Homo sapiens: one gene and its partner. The gene in region 1 interacts genetically with each later gene. Each region holds a gene or a part of one and is shown on either strand. Other genes may lie near its edges.

What was found.
Region 2: of MERTK (region 1) and ITGB5, changing one enhances a phenotype caused by changing the other (phenotypic enhancement), as found in Homo sapiens cells (one study listed by BioGRID).

The regions. Positions count from the first base shown.
Region 1 is NC_000002.12:111,891,396-111,902,964, forward strand, and holds the start of MERTK (tyrosine-protein kinase Mer precursor), read left to right. Parts: upstream 1-7,211; 5' UTR 7,212-7,340; coding exon 7,341-7,401; intron 7,402-11,569. UniProt on the Homo sapiens protein: Receptor tyrosine kinase that transduces signals from the extracellular matrix into the cytoplasm by binding to several ligands including LGALS3, TUB, TULP1 or GAS6.
Region 2 is NC_000003.12:124,840,079-124,850,928, reverse strand, and holds part of ITGB5 (integrin beta-5 isoform a precursor), read left to right. Parts: intron 1-2,370; coding exon 2,371-2,620; intron 2,621-9,377; coding exon 9,378-9,546; intron 9,547-10,850.

The DNA of each region.
Region 1 (11,569 bases):
TCTGTTTGGGGCTCTCGGCTCCAAAGGCTGTGAGGCCCCTGATTTCCCACTCCACACCCTATATTTCTGTGTGTGTGTCTTTAATTCCTCTAGCCCCACTGGGTTGTGGTCTCCACGACCGAGCTGGTCTCAGCAGCCATCTCTCTCTCTTTTTGTTTTTTTTTTTAAAAACAGAGTCTCGCTTTATTACCCAGGCTGGAGTACAGTGGCACAATCTTGGCTCACTGCAACCTCGACCTCCTGGGCTCAAGCGATCCTCCCATCTCAGCCTCCTGAGTAGCTGGGACCACAGGTATGCACCACCATGCCTGGCTAATTTTTGTATTTTTTGTAGAGACGGAGTTTCACCATGTTGCCTGGGCTGGTCTCGAACTCCTGGGCTCAAGCATCTGCCTGCCTCAGCCTCCCATAGTGCTGGGATTACAGGCATGAGCCACTGTGCCCGGCCTACATCCACCGTCTCACTTTCCCTCAATCTTCAAGTGCTAGACTTTGTATTCCCAGTATGGCTTTATGCTGACTTGAGACCCCTCTAAGCATCATTTCAGTGCCCCAGTGAACCCTAATGTTTAAACATTTGCACATCATAGATATTGTTCAGCATAGTGAAAGGAGTTTTGTACCTATACTATCTCAAGTTTCCAAAAGCTATAAGGGCTAGACACTGATCCTTCCACTTTATTGTTCACCTCTCGAAATGCAGCCTCTACATGCTCTAATAATTGTACTTCCCATATGCAGTTGACTGTGGTGATTTGAGCCTTTTAAACACACAACCTGACTTTGCCTCCCCAACCTCCCCCCAACAAATTACATAAGCTGGATACTAGTATTTCCAGTCTGTTGTTCAGCACATGGAATGAAATGTCCTAGGTTCTCCATCATTACACCCCAACAATTTCAAAAACTGGGCTCTTGGCCTCCTAGTATGTGGCTGAGCATGTTAAAGGAAGTATCATGACAGAACTCTCAATTCCATAACAGACACAAGTGCCAGACAAGGCAACTTCCACTGTACTTCTCAGCACAGTGAAAAAATACACTATCTCATTTTTTTTTTTTTTTTTGAGATAGAGTCTCGCTCTGTGGTCCAGGATGGAGTGCAGTGGTGTGATCTCAGCCCACTGCAACCTCACCTCCCAGGTTCAAGTGATTCTCCTGCCTCAGCCTCCCGAGTAGCTAGGACTACAGGCATGCACCACCATGCCCAGCTAATTTTTTTTATTTTTTTTAATAGATACAGGGTTTCACCATGTTAGCCAGGCTGGTCTCTAACTCCTGACCTCAGGTGATCTGCCCTCCTTGGCCTCCCAAAGTTCTGGGATTACAGGCATTAGCCACCATGCCTAGCCCACTAGCTCATTTTTCTTTTTTTTTTTTGAGATGGAGTCTCGCTCTGTCACCCCAGCCGGAGTGCAGTGGTGCCATCTTGGTTCACTGAAACCTTCGCTTCCCAGGTTCAAGCAATTCTCCTGTCTCAGCCTCTTGAATAGCTGGGACTACAGGCATGTGCCACCACGCCTGGCTAATTTTTTTGGTATTTTTAGTGGAGATGGGGTTTCGCCACGTTAGCCAGGATGGTCTCCATCTCCTGATCTCATGGTCTGCCCGCCTTGGCCTCCCAAACTGCTGGGATTACAGGCGTGAGCCACCGCACCTGGCCCTAGCTCATTTTTCTAACAAACTGTAACACTTAGATATGCTTCTCATGCCTCTTCCAGGATGCTAAATAGGTTGTCACTTACCCACCAACTATAAAAGCTCAACAATTGGCCTTCTGTACCTTGTTCAACACAATGAGGAGCATCTTTAAATGGTGCTGCCCCATTTCCAATGGGATGAGAGTGAGATTTTACTTTTAATGAGTTTTTCAGCCTATTGGATGGATTATCTTGAAAGACACTCCAAGAAACCACTAAAGGAAATACTTTATTCCAGTATCGTGTTCACTGTGCTGAATGGAGTGTTTTACTTGTACTATTTCACTTTACAACAACTATAAAAGCTATTGTACTGTGAGGGTTAATTCCAGCAGGCCTGAAATTAGCTTGAACTGTTTTGAAGTTCCTGCGTGGCAATGACCCCTGGCCAAGAGCATGAAGCATATTGATTAATAATGTTGCTTTTTAACCATCAGTCTGAGGAGCTTCAGGGAAACTTGTACTACCATCAACTTTGCTTTTCGAAAACAATGAGATAAATGATTTGCACCTGGTCTCAGCGAGACCCCTCCAACCCCTGCCACAGGGCTCTGCTGTTGAGGCTGGTTATGCCTTAAGACTATGCCGATGACCAGCAAAATATAAAAATCCCCAGCTGAGACTCCATTTTCGATCCCATTTCTGAGGTGTTCCATGCACACATCAATGGTTTTTGATCCAACAGAGAAAGTGCATCCTGCCACGTTCCTTACAGAAATTAGGACAAAGGAGCTGGCACCTGGCCTATCTGGCCATGAATAGCCTTTGACTGAGATGCTTATTCTTACTTTACTGCTATTTGCTATATTGTGTCCTCTTACTGTAACAAACTCGAGATGTTGGATCTGGTCAGTAATTTTTTAGCAGTGAAACCGTTTAACTTCCACTTAACGATTATACAACTGGCCGGGCGCAGTGGCTCACACCTGTAATCCCAGCACTTTGGGATGCTGAGGCAGGTGGATCATGAGGTCAAGAGATGGAGGCCATCCTGGCCAACATGGTGAAACCACGTCTCTACTAAAAATACAAAAATTAGCTGGGTGTGGTGGCACACACCTATAGTCCCAGCTACTCGGGAGGTTGAGGCAGGAGAATTGCTTGAATCTGGGAGGCGGAGGTTGCAGTGAGCCAAGATCACGCCACTGCACAACAGCCTGGTGACAGAGCAAGATTCGGTCTCAAAAAAAAAAAAAAAGGCAATTATATGACTGCACTTGTGTATGTGTGTTTGATTCAATATTTCAAATGGTTTACATTACCTAAAATATATGCCCCCAAAGGCCTTAAACCTATACTCCCATTATGTTGTTCAGCACATTGAACAGGGTCTCTTCCATGCACTGTCTGTGTTATGCAAGAAACTACAAGATGCTTGTACGTCCCTCAAGATTTTTGGCATTATGAGTTGACTTTTCTTACGGGCACCATTCCAGTTATCCAGCAAATTTTAAGAACTTGGCACTTACATTTCTAATATATTGCTCAGAATACTGAATGAAGGACAAGAGGTCAAGGGGTTTAGAAGCTGTGGTGTTGAAGTACCATTTATAAGGTACCGAAACTACCAAAAGTCATGGCAGGGATAGTGTAAAGGGAGTGACTGTGATGCAGGCGCTGCATCTTCAGAGAATTAGGAGAGACTCAGGGGTCCCTACGTGGCTGCAGCAAGCAGGGCTGGTCTAGTCTAATGACATCAGAGTCAAAGCCAGAGACTAGAGAGTAGGGACACATAATGGTCTTAAGACAGCAAAGAGAATATCACATCCAGACCCAGGGACAGGGAGGTGAGTGTAGGAAGCATGGTTCACCAAAGGAAAACCAGGGTGCTATTACTAGAGTATTGTGGTATGGATGCTAGCTGCTGGGTGAGTGAGTGCCAAAGTGGTCTGAAGATTGCTTTTTTTTTTTTTTGAGACGGAGTCTTTCTCTCTGTTGCCCAGGCTGGAGTGCAGTGGCACCATCTTAGCTCACTGCAACCTCTGCCTCCCAGGTTCAAACAATTCTCCTGCCTCAGCTGGGATTACAGGCATGCGCCACCACAGCCAGCTAATTTTTGTATTTTTAGTAGAGACAGTGTTTCACCATGTTGACCAGGCTGGTCTCGAACTCCCGACCTCAAGTAATCTGCCCACCTTGGCCCCCCAAAGTGTTGGGATTACAGGTGTGAGCCACTGTACCCAGCTGATGGGATAGAAGATTTCTGAGGGAGGTGAACTGGGGGGTCTACATGGTAGACTAGAGGCAGGAGGGGGAAATAAATTACAGGTATAGCTGTAGACAGAGCTGAAAGGGGTAGGGGACAGGGGTAAGAGGACAAAGAGAAGCAAGGTATGGGTTTAGACATAGGGTCATTGAGGACTACGTCTTCACACATTTCATTTGTGTGTGGCCTGGCGCGCTCCTATGGGACCTTCAATTGGAAGCCTCAAGTCCTGTCACTGATACGTTGAACATGTTTGACAGATAGATTGTGACCACAATGCCACTTTACCTTGGTTACAGCTCTTTCACACTTGAATCAGTGGGGGTAATCTTCCCTAGCCCTTAGATGAACACTGCAGCAGGCCTTTAACATTCTCTCTTTTTCTTAGGTATTAAACAGTAGGGGCTCCTACTTGTAGCACAGAGTCTTAGCTGACACAGGAGACACAGTGGGCATTGGAGAATGGGTTCCAGGTAAGTGTCTTCTTGTTGAAGTTGCACAACAGCCTTGGAACTAGTTATGTAATATGGGGTCCGGGTTGTTTTTTGTTTGTTTGTTTGTCGCTCATATTTTCCTACATGTAGTCTGATCACTTGAATAATTAGGACATTAAATTGCAATATCATTTGGATGCACAAGTACAAAATTAACATTGTAGAGCTGACATCTCACAGTTTAGCTAAATTTTGGCATTTGCAGATTTTTAAAAGCATAACTGCAACTTCTTTGACACTTCTATCTTCAAGAGGTTGGGCTTGAACCTCTATGGCTCCTCCCCATGAGGGTGGGGTTGTGACTGCTTCCATCAAGAGAGTAGGGTGGAGTTATGTGACCTCCGAGGCTAGGACATAAAAGGCCACGAAGCTTCCTCCTTGTTTACTGGAATGCTTGCTCTTGGAGCCCTGAGCTGCCATGCAAGACTTCCAGCTACTCCAAGGCCACCATGGAGAAGCCTAGTTTAGGTGCTCCAGTTAGTCTGCAGCCCTAGTGCCCAAGTCATCCCAGTGCAGATGGCAGCTATGTGAGTGAATGAGCCTTGAGATCGGGGTTAGCCAACTTTTTATCTAAAGGGCCAGATTGCATGGCTTTGTGGGCCACATAATCTCTGTCACAATTACCAACATGAATGACTGTGTTTCGATAACGATTATTTGCAAAAAGAAGCCATAGGCCTGCAGGTTATAATTTACTTTACATGATTCTAATCCCCAACCATTTGAGCCTAAGGTCCCAGGCAGATATGGAGGAGCAAGGACAACCTATTTCCCCTGTGCTCTGTCCAAACCTCCGATCCACAGAATTCAGGAATCTAATAAAATGGCTGACATTTTACTCCCACTATGTTTGGGGTGGTATATCAAACACCGGTAGATAGCTGAAGAGTATTGTACAAGGCAGGCCTCAACAAGAAAGTGAGATTTGAGCTGACTTGGAGGAGAGCCAACTGGGAAGCTGTGTGTCTAGGGGAAGAGCATTTCAGGCAGAGAGAACAGCCAGTGCAAACCTTTGGGCGGAGGAGTGCTTGGTATATGTGAGCAATAGCAAGGAAATTGCAGGAGAACAGCTCTGCCGAGGTGTCCTTGGCAATCTTGCACATCTCTCGAGGCCATGTAGGCAAGGTATGACCACGGTCTGACCCAAGTCTTGTTGGACTGCCCTGTGATTTCCCCTAAAGCAGGGATGGGTAAGCCTGGTGAGGAGCCACTGGTAGGCAGTTTCCTATCCCTACCCCATGGGAGACTGCTGCAAGGCCATTTCTCTTCCTTCTCCAACGTTTCAGTTGACTGCAGGACTTTCCATATCCCTCCCTCCACCGCCCAGCCCGCTTCCCTCCAAGCATACAGCGGCAGGCTCCTGTGAAGTCTATAAAACTGCTTGGTGTAATTTAGACTTGGCTACTCAGCGGCAGGGCTCATGTTGTCTTATTTATTTATTTATTTATTTATTTATTTTTGTTAAATTATGTAGACCCATAGGATAACACTGACCCTTCCAGTTTGGTGTTATCTTGTAGGCCTAAGGATGCATGGAGCTGACACCACACTGATTTTGCTTTTGCTGTCGGTGTAAGTAATAACCTGTCTAAACCCATCTGGGCTGCCTGTCTCCTTCCCGTAGCCAAATCTACGGGAAGTGTCCAGCCAGTGTAGGGGTCAAGGGACCGCTTGACGAGACCAACGTAAATTGAAGAGGCGTAAGGAGATGAGGCCAAAGAGGAAAGGGGACCAGGTCACGTAGAACCTCGTAGACCACTGCAGAACCTTGGCTTACGTACGCAGAGACAGCAGGAACCACTGATAGGTTTAGGGAGATTTGAGGAGAGGGACATGATTTGGCTTATGTTATGTTGTTAAAGGGACCACATTAAAATACATTCATTCTAAAAGTGTTACCTTTAAGAAACTACGTATATAAATTAAGTTACTGTTGCCATTATTAGCGTAAGTAGTTACATTTCTCTTACGACTCACTCTCTGCTACTGCCTCTTGGACCCTGCACACCTTGTGGAGGCCCATGAGAGTGACGTGCTGTGGTTCCCCCTCTCCCCACTCCTGCTCTGCACTTTGTCATTCACGTTCATCTCCCTCCTTGAGTGTCACCTCTCTCTGGCTCGTCACGGAGCCACGGCAAAGCGTCCTTTCCCAGGAACCCCTCCCCCTGGGGAGGTGAGCTCCTCGCCGCCAGGGCCGTGTCGCGCACCTCGGGCCGGGTACCCAGGCGGCGCTCGGCGGCGAGCGGAATGGATGTGGAGGAGCGCTCGGCAGGGAGCGCTGCCGCCCTGGCCTTGGCCTCTGGGAGCGGCGCGGCCAGGGTTTTCTGTGTCAGCCAAGCCCGGAATGCGGGGGCGCCTCTGGACCCTCCTCTTGGGTCTGGGGGCTGCCTCGGGCATCCTCTACTCCTCTCCCACCTTCTGTCCTTCCCCATCTCCCACCCACACGTGTGGGGCCCCGGACCCGCGCAGCGGCCAGAGCCTTCCGCTGTGGACCTCCAGTCCACCCCTCCCCTTCACTTCTCTTTCCGGCTCCCTCCGGGTCTCTCAGCCCCCTCCCCTTCCTCTCCGCCCCCTTCCCCGCCGTCTGCCCAGCGGCGGCCTTCGGCCCGCCCCTTCTCTCCAACCCCCTCCCTTTCCCCTTTACGCCCCTCCTCCCCCTCGTCCTCCCGCCCCCTCCCACCCCAACCTGCTGGGCCCGCCGGGACTCGCCCCCCTGCCCGCTCCTCTCCTCCAGCCCCGGCCGGCCTCGGCTCGGCCCCCGGCCCGCCCCTTCCAGCCCTCGGCACCTCCCGCCGGCCGCTTGGCTCCGCCACTCGGCACTCACTGCCCGGGCCGCCCGGACAGGGAGCTTCGCTGGCGCGCTTGGCCGGCGACAGGACAGGTTCGGGACGTCCATCTGTCCATCCGTCCGGAGAGAAATTACAGATCCGCAGCCCCGGGATGGGGCCGGCCCCGCTGCCGCTGCTGCTGGGCCTCTTCCTCCCCGCGCTCTGGCGTAGAGGTGAGTGCGCCCGGCTGGGGGCCAGGCGAGGGGGTGGGGGCTCCCAGGAGGAAGCAGGGGCCTCTGGGGAGGGAGCGCGTCCACAGGGGCGCGCCTGGCTGCTGGACAAGTTTGCAAACACCCTCCACCCACTGCGGTGCCAGAGGAGGGGGCGTAGGCGAACCTACCGTCCACTGACCGCGGCGCCTCAAGCGTCCCGAGGGCACCCAGCCTGGCTTGCGGGTGCGCATCGTGGTGAAGCCGGGTCGGGGTCGGCGTTGCAGGCTCCCCTCTTCACCGCAGAGGAGGAAATCGAGCTCGGCCGGGCGCGCTGCAAGTCCTGAAGTTCCGACGAGTGGAACGTAGGTAGCAGGTCTGGTCTGGGATGCGACGAGAACTTTCCACTAGAGTTGCATGGTGGGGCCCCGCTCTGGCCGGAGTCCCGGGGGCCACAGATCCGGTCTCCCGAGGGACCGGCGCGGGGCGAACGAACGGGCTGCGGGAGTCGGAGCCGCAGTCCGGGAGCCGCGATAGACTGAGGCCGAGCGACGGGCCAGGGGGGGACGGCAGTCCTGGCTGCTCCCAATGGGCCCTTACGGGCATTATTAGTATCCCTTTTTAGGGGCACCCAGAGAGTGTGGGAAAAGGGGAGCGTTCTTTTCACTCCTGTTATGGCAGAACAGAACTTACAGTGCTCGGCAGCGTTTACGTTTATCTGGATTCAGCGAAGTGTTGTTACAGGCTTTTTTTTTTTTAATTTGAGACCGAGTCTCGCCCTGTCGCCCAGGCTGGAGTGCCGCGGCGCGATCTCGGCTCACTGCAGGCTCCGCCTCCCGGGTTCAAGCGATTCTCCTGCCTCAGCCTCCCGAGTAGCTGAGACTATAGACGCGCGCTACCACGTCCGGCTAATTTTTGTATTTTTAGTAGAGACGGGGTTTCACCATGTTGGCCAGGATGGTCTCGATCTCTTGACCTCGTGATCTGCTCTCCTTGGCCTCCCAAAGTTCTGGGATTACAGTCGTGAGCCACCGCGCCCGGCTTGTTCCAGGCATTTTAATACAAGATGCTGGACTGATACGTGGAGGCAAGGAAGGCCGGTTTCATTCTGCTTGAACAGCTTATTTGGGGAGTGAGTGATGAACAGATTTCAAGTTTGATCGCTGATGCACTTCTTGAGGAGGCTGGAATAAACTTACCAGGCTTTACCCAAAAGAAAAAGAAAGGGGAAAAATGCTAAATAAACACATTCCAAGTATTTTCTCTCAGCTAAAAGGTTTCTATTTCCATTCAGCATGTAGATTTTCTCTCTTTTGATCGAGAATGCACTTGACTAGCCTTCACCTATTACAGTCAAAGATGTTTTTTAGGAATACCTGGAAAGCTCAGTTTATAGTCAAGTAAGTTACTTAAAAGTTTTTCCTTTGAGATTTTCCTTTGAAAGCTCATTTACTCAAATGAAAAATTCTTAAACAGTGCACCCACTTTTTGCACGTTAAATTACATAAGCAATTTATAATTTGGGGCAACATAGCAATTTGAAACAAACTTTAAGAGCCAGGCAAAGAACTAAAGCAGTTCTGTTCTCCACTGCCCCTCCCTCCACCAAACCTTCAAAAATTCCTCAGCATTTCTGCCAGCCCCATTTTTCATAATCTGCTGCAAATCTGTTATTTGTTGCTACTAGTGAGGACTGGCCGTGAATAGTCTTGGAGGTAGTGAATGTGGTGAGAACTATGGAGAAAGTAATGGGAACAATAGTTTTGTGTTAAATACTTAAAAATTGGAGTGCTTTTGTTTTTCTAAAATTTTAAAAGGCTGTAATAACAAATTTTTGTAGCTGACAATCAACTTTAATCAGACAATCATAAAAAGGCCTTTTAAAATCCACCCAGCTGGAAGAATGAAAAGTTTCACCAATCGTTCTTGCACTTTTTGCTTTTGGTTTTGAACTTTACCTATGAGATGTGTGACAGTTTTACATCTCACCTTGTGAAAAGCTTAAAGAATGGGATTCTCACTGGCAGAATTACAGCACAAAGGAGTGCTGTATGAAGAAATTAAACATGGAAATTAGACTCTTCATCTAATTTTAAGATTTTCCTATTACACATTGTGGGTCTGAGTGCTTTGCTGACCACACAGGGGAGACAGAGAGAGAGACAATGAGAATATGTGTGTAGATTCTACACTGTTAGCAGTATAGAAGAATGGGTAAATAAAATTTAAGCATCACTTTAACCCAGGAAATCCCCTCTGCCCCCCAACACACATACACACTACACGTCTCACAAAGACATGCACACACAGAACTGGAACTGCCAAACCAGGAGCATTTCGAGGCTTTCCAGTCTTTCCTTTCTGCTCAGTCTCTGATGGGGGTGCCATTGAGCAGCAAAATGAGGCAAGCGGTGGCTCTCTGAAGGGCCAGGGAGAGGATGGAGCAAGATAAATATAAATGTGGATAAAAATGAATGCATTATGAGGACTTAGCTCATGACGAGGCTGTGTGTGCAGCTAAACTCAACCCTTAGAGTAAATTAGGCTTTTAAGATTCTTTAATGTTAATATTTCTTTTCCAAACTGATATTGTAACATGTATTCCAGTATATTGTAAACATCTTCCCAGAGGGAACTTTTAAGTTGTTCTGTTGCTTGTGGGCTTTATTCCAAAGGCTTCAAATGCTTTTTGAAAGTACATCGTGCATATTTTAAAAATGAATACTTTTAGAAAATTATTCTGACCCATTAAAGTGCTGAGTGGAATTCTTTTCTTTTCTTTCTTTCTTTTTTTTTTTTTTTTGGCAGGTTCTCATTCTGCCACCCAGGCTAGAGTGCAGTGGCACCATCACGGCTCACTGCAACCTCAACCTTCCGGGCTCAAGTGATCCTCCCACCTCAGCCTCCCAAGTAGCTATGACCACAGGCACATACCACCATGCCTGGCTAATTTTTTATTTTTTGTAGAGACAGGATCTCACTATGTTGCCCAGGCTGGTCTTGAACTCCTGGGCTCAAGCGATCTTCCCACCTTAGCCTCTCAGAGTGTGGGGATTATAGGCATGAGCCACCATGCACAGCTGAATACAATTTTTAAAAAATTAACAATAATTATGTTTTTTTGTTTTTGAGATAGAGTTTCACTCTTGCTGTCCAGGCTAGAGTGCAATGGCACAATCTCGGCTCACCGCAACTTCCCGCCTCCCGGGTTCAAGCAGTTCTCCTGCCTCAGCCTCCTGAGTAGCTGGGATTACAGGCATGCACCACCACGCCTGGCTAATTTTGTATTTTTGGTAGAGACAGGGTTTCTCCGTGTTGGTTAGGTTGGTCTCGAACTCCCAACCTCAGGTGATCTGCCTGCCTTGGCCTCCCAAAGTGCTGGGATTACAGGCATGAGCCACCACACCCAGCCAATAATTATATTTTTAAATCTTAATTTTTGAAATAATTTCCAGATAATTGTAGAAGGGCCAGTGAGTTACTAGTCAGCATTGGTCAAGAAGAGGTTCAATCTTTTTATGCCTGTGAATTGGGAACATGCTGCTGGGTAGAAAAACTGAGCTGGGACCTTGAACACACATGTGAAACAGTCGCTTTCCATATAATAGCCAGAATGAGATTTTGGAAACGAATCTGATTGTATTTTCCATTTGAAAATCTTCCAGTGGCTTCCTGTTCCCTACTAGAATTTGCAGAGACTCACAGCGAACCTCTTTGACCCATTTCCATTCACTTCCCTCTTGTTCCTACCACTCCAGCCACCTGTGTCTTCTTTCTAGGGCCTGAGCAGCCTTTGCAGTGACTCTTCCCTCTGGCTGGAACCTTTTTCCCAAGATCTCGGCATGCTGGCTTCTTCTCATCCTTTGGGTTTCAGTTCAGAGGTTCTCCTTGAGAAGCCTTCCCCAATAACCACCCCCTGCCAAAGTATCATATGCATACACCCCACTATCCCTTAAATTTAATTTCCTGATAATGCTTCTCACAACCTGATCAGTTCCTTCCTTCCTTCCTTCCTTCCTCCCTCCCTCCCTCCCTCTATTTCTTTATTGACAGAGTCTTGCAATGGCAAATTCTCTGCTCACTGCAACCTCCGCCTCCCAGGTTCAAGCAATTCTCCTGCCTCAGCCTTCCCAGTAGCTGGGATTACAGGCACCTGCCACCACAGCTGGCTAATTTTTGTATTTTTAGTAGA
Region 2 (10,850 bases), on another chromosome or scaffold:
TCTGCCCATGCAAGGGCCAAGGAGGGAGCTCCCTTCCCCCAACTCCCCCCTCTTCCCTGCCCCTCCCTCACTGTGATGTGGCACCCAAGGAGCCCTCTGGCGGGACAAGCTGTGTCTGTCTGACCAAAGGCAGACACTGCAGCAGCCTGGAATTCATTCTGGAAGAAAACCTTGAACATTCCTCTGTTTGAGTCAGACTCTGATGGTTTTTTTTTTTGTTTTTTTAAATTATTATTATTATACTTTAATTTTAGGGTACATGGGCACAATGTGCGGGTTAGTTACATATGTATACATGTGCCATGCTGGTGCGCTGCACCCACTAACTCGTCATCTAGCATTAGGTATATCTCCCAATGCTATCCCTCCCCCCTCCCCCCACCCCATGGTTTTAAAAAATAGGCTTATACCAATAGGCAACTCAAACTCCATCAATCCTGAGGCGCCTAGAACAGTACACGCAAAGACAAGTCAGGGGAAGCAGGCTCAGAGCTGCCACTCTGACTGCAAGCAGTAATGATCATAATCATACTTCATCCGTGCAAGCCTGTACTGCTCATAAAACACTGCTCTCCCTCATGAGCGCATCATAGGCTTAATTGATGCTGTGAGCATTGTTACTTCCATTTTATATTTCAAGAAACCGTGGCCCAGGTTGCACTCCTATTCAAGGGACAGAGCTGGAACTTGAACTAAAATCTTTTGATCATTGGATTCTTCGTGATCTAGTTAGTGAAATATGCCTTGTTGTCACGGTGGGAGGAGGAGAGGAAGCATAGAGGATTGAGTTCCCTGCAAGTTAAAGAAGGCTTCAGCTTGCTAGTTGTCAGCTTGAGATGAAAGACTGGTTGCTCTGAGATGTGGCTGCCGGCAAGTCAGGTGTAGACCCGCTGGGCAGGAGTGAGGCCACCTTTGCTGTTGTGCCTCTACACACACAAAGAATCTATCCAAATTTCAAGTATGTGTAGACAGTTCTACTGCAGGATAAATAGGGCATCTCTTGGCACTCCTGAAAGGTTAATAAGCCCAAGGCAGATAGAATGATCTGGTATGAGTTGAGCCTTAAAGTTGGTTCTAAGTGATTTGTTTTTAGAAATTATGAAATGATTTCAAGATCATTATCGTGGCCTGGGTCTTCCAGTTATTGCCCTGACTTGAGCCTCTCTTTGAACTCTATAGGGTGAGACAGAAAAGGCCACACCTGCCAGACACTAGCTTTTCTCTTTGTTCTTTTCCTCTGAATTAATTCCCCTTTTCTCTGCCTGTTGGCTATCTTATTGTAGCTGGTAGACAAATCTAGTGCTGTCTTTTCTCTTTCTTCTTGTTTTCTTTTTTCGATAGAGCTAAAATTTGGAATCTGTCTTCCTGTATTTATATATGTAGTTTCCAATGATAATGAGTTGTGCCTGTGATGTCCCAAAACATCAAATATGCCCCCCAAATAAATACTAGTCTGGTAAATGGCGAGAGAAATAGAAACAAACACAGGTGATGTGGCATAAGCATGCATATTTTTGCCCATTGGGGTATTTTAAACAACGATCTTTGTTTCTCTGCCCTCCCTTGCCTTGCACATCTCTCTCCCCAACTTGGTTCTTCCCCACTCAGGCCCACACCCCTCTTTTGTTCATTTCTTCCCTGCTTTTTGTTTCAAACGCACATTCCCATCGTGACTGGGTCTTTCTCTGGAGTTGGTATGTGGTTGGTGGGCTACTCTCCACCCAGTTTGTGTTCATGAAATTGTCTGGTTCACTGTCCACTGATTACTCAAGGGTCTTTGTTGCTGAGAAGACAGAACACTACCAAGGAGCCTGGTTGTTAAGGAGTTTCCTTAGAAATGCTAAGCCCAGGCCAGGCGTGGTGGCTCACACCTGTAATCCCAGCACTTTGGGAGGCTGAGGTAGGTGGATCACTTGAGGCCAGGAGTTGGATACCAGCCTGGTCAACATAGTGAAACCCCGTCTCTACTAAAAATGCAAAAATTAGCCAGGCATGGTGGTGGGCACCTGTAATCCCAGCTACTCAGGAGGCTGAGGCATGAGAATCGCTTGAACCTGGTAGGCAGAGGTTGCAGTGAGCCAAGATCGCACCACTGCACTCCAGCCTGGGCGACAGAGCAACACTGTCTCAAAAAAAATAAAATAAAATAAAAAAAGAAGTGCTAAGCCGAATGTTTAGGAAGGAGAACCCAGGCCTCCATTCTCAGCACCGTATTCCCTTCAGGCACTTTACTTCCAAGAAAAATCTTCTGTGAGGCACACAATCACTAAAGAAAAGTAAGAGGCAAACTAGCTTTGAAAGCAAATCCCATCCCTCAGCCCTCAGCAGGTTGCACAACCTCTAACACACGTGGCCTCTCTGTTGGTGCAGGTGACAAGACCACCTTCCAGCTACAGGTTCGCCAGGTGGAGGACTATCCTGTGGACCTGTACTACCTGATGGACCTCTCCCTGTCCATGAAGGATGACTTGGACAATATCCGGAGCCTGGGCACCAAACTCGCGGAGGAGATGAGGAAGCTCACCAGCAACTTCCGGTTGGGATTTGGGTCTTTTGTTGATAAGGACATCTCTCCTTTCTCCTACACGGCACCGAGGTACCAGACCAATCCGTGCATTGGGTAAGTGACCAGTTGCCCTTCTGTTGGGTACTTAAGGGTGGGAGAATGGAGAAGCAGGAAAATTTAGCTCAAAGAAAGAATTAAGGAAGGCATGGTTAGGAGGGGTGGCCAGGCTTAGGCGTTTAATTTGATTAATGATAAGCATACATTCTCTCCTTTCCTGACGTGTGAAGAAGTGAGTGAACTGTCACAAGGTTGTAAAGATAAAATGATCACAACCCCTTGATTTTCCTGCCTGCCATGCACAGCACCATTTGCTCACATTAATAGAATTCAGAAAATGTCCTCAGGGAGTGATGGATCCAGATTATCAGGGAGGCAGCAGGCAGGGCAACTTAAACTTTCCCCTTGCTTGTAGTAACTGAGGTGCTTTGGGAGAAATGAATTCAAAATTTGTCCCTGTTGTTTTTCTATAAATAACTATAACTTATTTTCACATAATTAGATTAAAATCCTATTTTAAATGTAAGAATTTTTTTTTCAACATAAACACCTGAACTAGAAAAGATTTGACATATTATTAGAAAACAGGTGTCTCTAACTGCTGCCAGATTCTATAATAACAAAGTGTATAATGGCTCAAACTTGCTGGAAGTTTATTTCCTGCTCCTCAAGTCCAACTGGGTCTCTTCATCCATGGAACTTCTCCTGCAAGCAGTGACTCAGGGACTCAGGTGCTTTCCATCTTCCAGGCTTTACCATCTTCCACACATGGCTCCTAAGGTCATGCTGCCTAGAGGGTCATGCATAGGAGGATAGGCCTTTGCCATGCCCGCTCCCACATGCTATTAGACGGAACAGGACTGAGCCAGGAGGCTGGGAACTAGTGTAGCTGTAGGCCCAGGAATCAGAAGAAATAGGATTAGTGAGCAGGTCTCTGCCATGGGACGTTTGTATGCATGCTGGGGTGGGTGGTTGTATGAGGGGATTGCATTCTTCAGCCCATGCAACACAACCTCTACTAGGTTGGTTTCTTTTCTTTTTAGTCTTTCAGGAGTTTCTTTAAATGTCAAGATTATGCAAGTGACTGCAGTGAGTGGTAACTTCCAACTCTTGCTTTCCTCATCTCCACATTTAACTTTAGTGAGGGTTTGTGTTGTAAGGTCCAAAACTAGTCATGAGATAGGAAATAACTAAGACTTAAGTTTTTACTAAGTGTCAAGCCCCATACTAAATATTTTCTGTGGATTATCTCATTTAAATCTCATAACAATCTGTTGAGGTCTCTAAGGTAAGTGTAAGCCAGATTTTAGAGATGCAGAAACTGAGGCCTAGAGAGAATAACTTACCCAATATTATACAAACAGCAAGGGGTAGAGCTGGAATATGAATACAGACAAACTACTTTTAGAGTCTGCATTTGCATTTTTTTTTGAGACGGAGTCTTGCTCTGTTGCCCAGGCTGGAGTGCAGTGGTGCAATCTCGGCTCCCTGCAACCTCCGCCTCCCGGGTTCAAGCCGATTCTCCTGCCCCAGTCTCCTGAGTAGCTGAGATTATAGGTGCCTGCCACCACACCTGGCTGATTTTTGTATTTTTAGTAGAGATGGGGTTTCACCATGTTGGCCAGGCTGGTCTTGAACTCCTGACGTCAAGCGACCCATCCACCTCAGCCTCCCAAAGTGCTGGGATTACAGGCATGAGCCACTGCATCCGGCCTGCGTTTGCGTTTAATATAATGTCTTCTTCCCCATTCAAATCACACTACAACACAGACACTTTACCTTAGGCTGAGTAATAATACCTGTCCCTAAACCACCCTACCCCCATGTCCTAGGGGCTTACCTGAGGATCATGGTAGGTTATGCTGCAGTAACGTAGAGTCTCCAAATCTCAGTGGCTCAACACAATGAACGTTTTTTTTTTGTTGGTTTTTTTTTTTTTTGCTTGTGCAACATCTGATGAGGGCTGAGCTGCTTTCCTTGGCAGCTCTCCATGCAGTAACTCAGGGATCCAGCTCCTTCCATCTTGTGATGCCATTCTCAATTCTTGGTCTTCCAGCTGCCACCAAGGGGAGAGAGCTGTTCTTAAATCCCTGAGCCCTCCCCTCTCCACAAGTCCTCTTTGGTAGCCTTCAGAGCTCCTAGCTCCAAGTTGGGCTGGGTGATAGGAGCAAGTTAGTGTGCTGGTGGCATAGGCTCTTCTGAATCCCTCCAGATCCTTCTGTATACTCTCCCAGAAGCTGACTTAGATCTTTTCAGGTATTGGGAACTGACACTGGTGGAAAAACAGACAAGAAAAAGTTTTAAATACAAATGAACTCTAAATTCTTTAACCACGAAGAGGCACTAGGCATCATCATTTGCTGGGTTTAGCTTCCTCCTGGCGACAGGTGGCCACAGGGACTATTACTACTTTGATTCTGTCTCCAAGGCCCTTTTCAGCTAAGTCTGGGTGTCAAATGTTTTTGTTGAAATTTTGCTGCTTACCAGGAGCAACAGCATCTTAACTGCAAGCCTTAAGCCTTTTTTCAATTCATCTGAAATAGTGATTTTATTTGCTTCTTTTCACCTCTGTCCTAATTGGGCCCTGTCTCCAGACAGATAGGGTGTGTCCCCACTTTCATTCTTCCAAGGCCCTTCCACTGACCGAGACACTAGATTGGAAGCTGGCAGAGAATCAAGGGCTGGCTCTAGGCGCTCAGCATTTAAATATTCAAAGTTATGACACATCATTACTTATTCAGAGCTCACTCTCTAAGTCCTCTAAGGCAGAGCCTGTTGCAGACAGTAAAACTCCTGACAGTGAGTACAAGGCACACTGAAAAGCTACTTGTAAGGCAGGAAGTCCAGTGAAGAATGAGAATGTGGAAGGAAACCTCGGGCCTGAGTTATGTGAAGCTCTCTTCTCTGAGCTGGGGAGGCACACGCAGCGTGGGGGCACACTGTGGCTTGGTGAGCAGGCCGAGCTTTGTCTCCCCACGTCCAGGCAGCACGGCATCCTGTGTCTCCTGGGTTCAAGTGATTCTCCTGCCTCAGCCTCCTGAGTAGCTGGTATTACAGGCACGTGCCACCACACCCAGCTAATTTTTGTATTTTTTAGTAGAGATGGGGTTTCACCATGTTGGCCAGGCTGGTCTTGAGCTCCTGACCTCAGGTGATCCACCCACCTCAGCTTCCCAAAGTGCTGAGATTACAGGGGTGGGCCACCACGCCCAGCCTAAAGTATTTTAAATTATTCTGTTTCTGTTTCTTGAATTGTGGATCCTTCAGGTGGATCCACAGCCAGTCAGTGTATTGGACCTGCTGACATGCCTTCATGAATTGTTTTTCATGCAATTTATAAGCTTTTCATTAGCTCTTCCTTGGAGGTTGTGGGGGCATCCCTGCAGAGCAGTTTTATGTTTGCCGTTGTCGAGAATCTCCAGGTTCACCGTGGGACTAGTTTTTCTGTTAATTTTTCAAATGGAGATGTCTTCACCATAAAAGCAGTGTATTCCAATTGCTCAGGCCTGGAGTTACAGTTTTTATGGGTAATTCATCTCATTCATGGTAGATGGTCAGCTTCCGTGCTGCTTTCCTAGACCAGTAGCTGGAGTTTTTCTGTTTCTGGTTTTAGTAGCACAGCAGCTCATTGTGCTGTTCGGCTTTATGCAGACAGCCCTATTCCAGTGTTCAGCCCTCTGCAGGACTGAGGCTCAGCATCTATTCCTGGTAGACCCTGCTCCAAGCCTGTAGGGCCTCAGTCAAGGCCTGACCCATTGCGGGGGTCCTTGGCATGAGTGCCTGCCCATTTCCTACCTTTTTTTTTTGAGACCGAGTCTTGCTCTGTTACTCAGGCTGGAGTGCAGTGGCGGGATCTCAGCTCACTGCAACCTCCACCTCCTGGGTTCAAGTGATTATCCTGACTCAGCCTCCTGAGTAGCTGGGATTACAGGTGCCCACCACCATGCCCAGCTAATTTTTGTATTTTTAGTAGAGATGGCGTTTCACCACGTTGGCCAGGCTGGTCTTGAACTCCTGACCTCAGGTGATCTGCCTGCCTCAGCCTCCTAAAGTGCTGAGATTACAGGCGTGAGCCACTGCACCCAGCCCCCACCTATTCTTTTAAGTCCATTCATTTGTTTTTTGGTGTTTTCTTTTTTTTTTTTTTTTTTTTTTTTTTTGCCAAAACCAAATACTTCTGAAAGGTCCATTCATTTATTGAATGGTTTCCTCTTCGTTTCTGGGATTTACTTTCTAAGCTTCCAGCCTAGGCTATATATTAAAAAATTTTAAATTACATTTTATCCAGCAGTTGTATATGTTTAGAGTTAGAAGAAGCAGATAAGATGTTTTCATTCCTGTTCCATGACATGGAGAGCCTTTCCATGTCAGCTTGATCCATGATATTCTCCTGAGGCATTAGATTGTTTTCTGGATTTGCCTAGGTCTGGTGTCTTCAAATTGGATTCACTTTTTATACATACAGACACTCCCTTGGCTCTTTAACCATATATATTTTATTTTTTATCTCCCTTGTTAATAATCCTTAATTTAGTAACTCTGTATGCATGGCGCTTATTTGGGGTCTCACAGCACAGACACATGAGAGGGGTAGGATAGTCTCCTGGCATGACCCCAGAACGTCCGGATCTTCAGGCCACTCAGACAGCTGCTCTGGGGTTAAGTCAGATAACTCATCACAGGTGACATCCTATTCCAGTGTCAGTGGAGACTCTCCTAGCGTCTGTGTGACAAAGCTCTTTTCCTAAGTGACTCTGACTTGGTTATAGTAAATTCTCTACAATGAAGGCTTCTCTCTGGCAAACACATCTTCTAATTCCTAACTACTTAACAGTCATTCTTTGCAGTAAAAATGTATCTGCTCATTGCTGTTTGCGGGAGTGAAAGGGAGGAGGTAAAACATGCTGAGCTGTAGCTGAGTTTGTCACAGCTTTCCTGGTTAAACAGCAATCATTATTCAGTTTCTTTTCTCCCTGTCCGCAACCAACCGGACCAAGTGTAAAAAAACCACACACCTGAAGTCCTAAATCATGGGCCAGAGCCACATAGGCCAGGGCAGGATCTTGGAGGAAGAGAGAGGGGGAGAGTTTGGATAGACTTACTTCCTTCTGGGCCTATGATCCACTTGCCAAATAGCTACAGATGGGACCTCAGTTCCTTCTTCCAGCTGGGAATGTAATTTCCATGATTGTTCTTTTCATGACAAAATGAGGAGGTAATGGAAAGTTTGGGTGGCCCGAGGCTGAGGTTAAAAGAGAGTTCCACCTGTCCAAGTACAAGGTGTTCATGAAGACTTCGGGAAAGGAGAAGGGAGAAACACAAAGGAAAGCCAGGCAGGGAGATCCCATCGCTGCCGCCGGCCCCGAGAGGGAGAGCGCGACTATCACAGGAGTGGGGCTGATTGATTCTGTGCAGGGTGGGCCTGTTGCTGGGGACTCTGTGCTGTGCTGTTGTGACTGTGTGGATGGAGAAGGGACTGTAGCCCTGAGAGGGAATGGAATAGCCCCTTAGAGAACCAAAGATTGCCCCTTTACAGAAGGGAGCCTGCCCAGACCTGCCCTGGTGAGTCTGCTTTTTGACAGCATTTAAGGCAGGGTCCTCCTAGCTGTTGCTAAGGCTGTTTTCTTTCCCATGTATGCAGCTTGAATTAGATTATAAAGCCTTTCCCTCAGGCCTGTTAGTGCTCGTTTTCCATCATTTATCCTGAAAGAGCGACTTCCTTAACATGGCTGGAGACCCTGCACAGTCTGGCCCAGCCTGCCTCCCAGGCTCCTCCTCGCCCATCCTCACCCGTTACTCTGCACCACAGCCCCCCGACCTCCCTCTGTCCTTGGGCTCTGTGCTCCCTTCTGCCACAGGACTCTTGCACATGCTCTTCTCTGGCTGGGACACTCTCCCCTCTTCCCTTTACTTTGTGAACCCATTGGTAAAACAATATAAGCTCTCTCTTCCAACTTTATTAGTTCTAGATCAAGCTGAAACTCTTAGAGCTGTAATGGAAAGTAACTCCCTTCAGGAATAGGGCCACTTGGAGTCTCCACAGGAGACTGAAAAGGAGATCACCCCATATTTCAGGAGAAAGGCTTGGTATTAACCTATTATTGATGTGTAATACTTCCTTCTTTTGTAATTTCCAGACATAACTTTCCATTTGAAGATGCTTAGTTTCTAAATAATTTTTATTGCATTTAGCAGAATTGATAGTTTGTTGGTACAATATTTAGAAACGAATGAAGAAGCAGATAAGATGTTTTCATTCCTGTTCCATTCAGCATTTGTCCATGTGCCTGCACATCCTGGTCACTGAGTGGATTGACATGACAAGATTATGTGATCCTGTGATCCTTTGTTGCGTGGCAGCAACATTGATGTAGAAGCTGGTTGCATGGAGTAACTGCACTTACATTGCCCTCACTGGGCATCATCCATGTTCCTTAGCCCAGAGGACACTTCCTCTCCACTCTGCCTAGGCTGGCCCACACCCCGGGTCCCACATACCTTTCAATGCCTATGTCAAGTCTTCCTCCAACCACAGTAGCCTACTATTATCTCTGTTTCCTTTGAACAATTTGTCCATACCATTCATTTATAACTTGGCATATACTGCCTTGCCTGCAGTTTAGGGCTGATGTTTGGAGAACAGGAACTATGTTATTTATCTTTGCTCTCTCTGCTGTGCCTGTCCTGGGGCATGTGGTAGGTGCTGGGTAAATAGTTATTGGTGCCTCTCAAGGCACTCAGTGAATGCTCAGAACACTTGGTTAAGATTTACAGACAATGATGGAAAAGTGACTCTTCTCTTCTTCCTCTCTAGTTACAAGTTGTTTCCAAATTGCGTCCCCTCCTTTGGGTTCCGCCATCTGCTGCCTCTCACAGACAGAGTGGACAGCTTCAATGAGGAAGTTCGGAAACAGAGGGTGTCCCGGAACCGAGATGCCCCTGAGGGGGGCTTTGATGCAGTACTCCAGGCAGCCGTCTGCAAGGTAACTTTCCTTTCTGGTCCTGTCCCTGCATGGGGAGGTCAAGGTAGAGAGCGTCAGTGGGTGTTGGTACTTCCTGCAGGAGTCTTTGAGTGCCCCAGCATGTGGCTCCTGACCACTCTGAAGTCAGAGGGTGAGCTCAGTGGAACTTCTGGGAAATCTACAGCAGTCAAATCAGCCGGAGCTCGGGAATGGATTGGGCTGGTCTGTGTCTCTGTGTCAGGGTGTGGTTGTGTGCAATGGAGTACTGTCTGCTAGAAGACAGCTGTCTGCATTTATACATTGGCTTTTTGGTTTATTTTCAGGGGAAAAAAGTAAAGGTCAAGTCATAGGCATAGAAGCTTGTAGAGCTTTCTGGACCAATTTTGGCAAACCTTAGAGATTGCTCTCTTGGGAAACCCAGTTGAAAAAGAATTGTGTGAGGCCGGGCGTGGTGGCTCACGCCTGTAATCCCAGCACTTTGGGAGGCCGAGGCAGGTGGATCACGAGGTCAGGAGTTCAAGGCCAGCCTGGCCAACATAGTGAAACCCTGTCTCTACTGAAAATACAAAAAAATTAGCCGGGCATGGTGACGGGTGCCTGTAATCCCAGCTACTCGGGAGGCTGAGGCAGGAGAATCGCTTGAACCAGGAGGCGGAGGTTGCAGTGAGTGGAGATTGTGCCACTGCACTCCAGCCTGGGCGACAGTGTGAGACTCTGTCTCAAATTTAAAAAAAAAAAAAAGAAAGAAAAAGAATTGTGTGGCATCTTTGGTTGCAATTCTAGTTGTTTTCCTCCTGCTTCTCTGTGATATATGAATCCAGAGGGAGGGCCTAGACTTAGATCAGAAATGAACTCATGCTTCGAGAGGTTCCAATCTTAGCAAAATATATAAATGGAATGTTGGTGATAACATAGTCTTAAAATAATTTTCTACTGTTGAAACAACCCAATAACAATAACAAAAAAAAAACACTCTTAAATTCACTATCATAACACATACTTTAAAAATCTGTGAGTCTCTTCTTAGTCTTTGTGCATACATTTCATATTTTTTCAAAGTGGTCATCAATAGAGTGTGAATAATTGGTAATACTTTCTTGAAAATTCAGGCAGATTCCTCAATAGGTGGGGACTCTTCCATTTGGTGAGGGCAGGGTCAGAGGCTAGAACTCAGTCTAGAGAGCCTGCATATGGCAGCTGCTATTCACTTATTAAGTGATAAGCACTTAATTGCTCACTTACACAGTTTCTGACCTCAGAGCCTGAATCTGGTGTGTCACACAGACTCCTGTTTCCTCTCCACTCAATCCTTGACAAGATGGGAA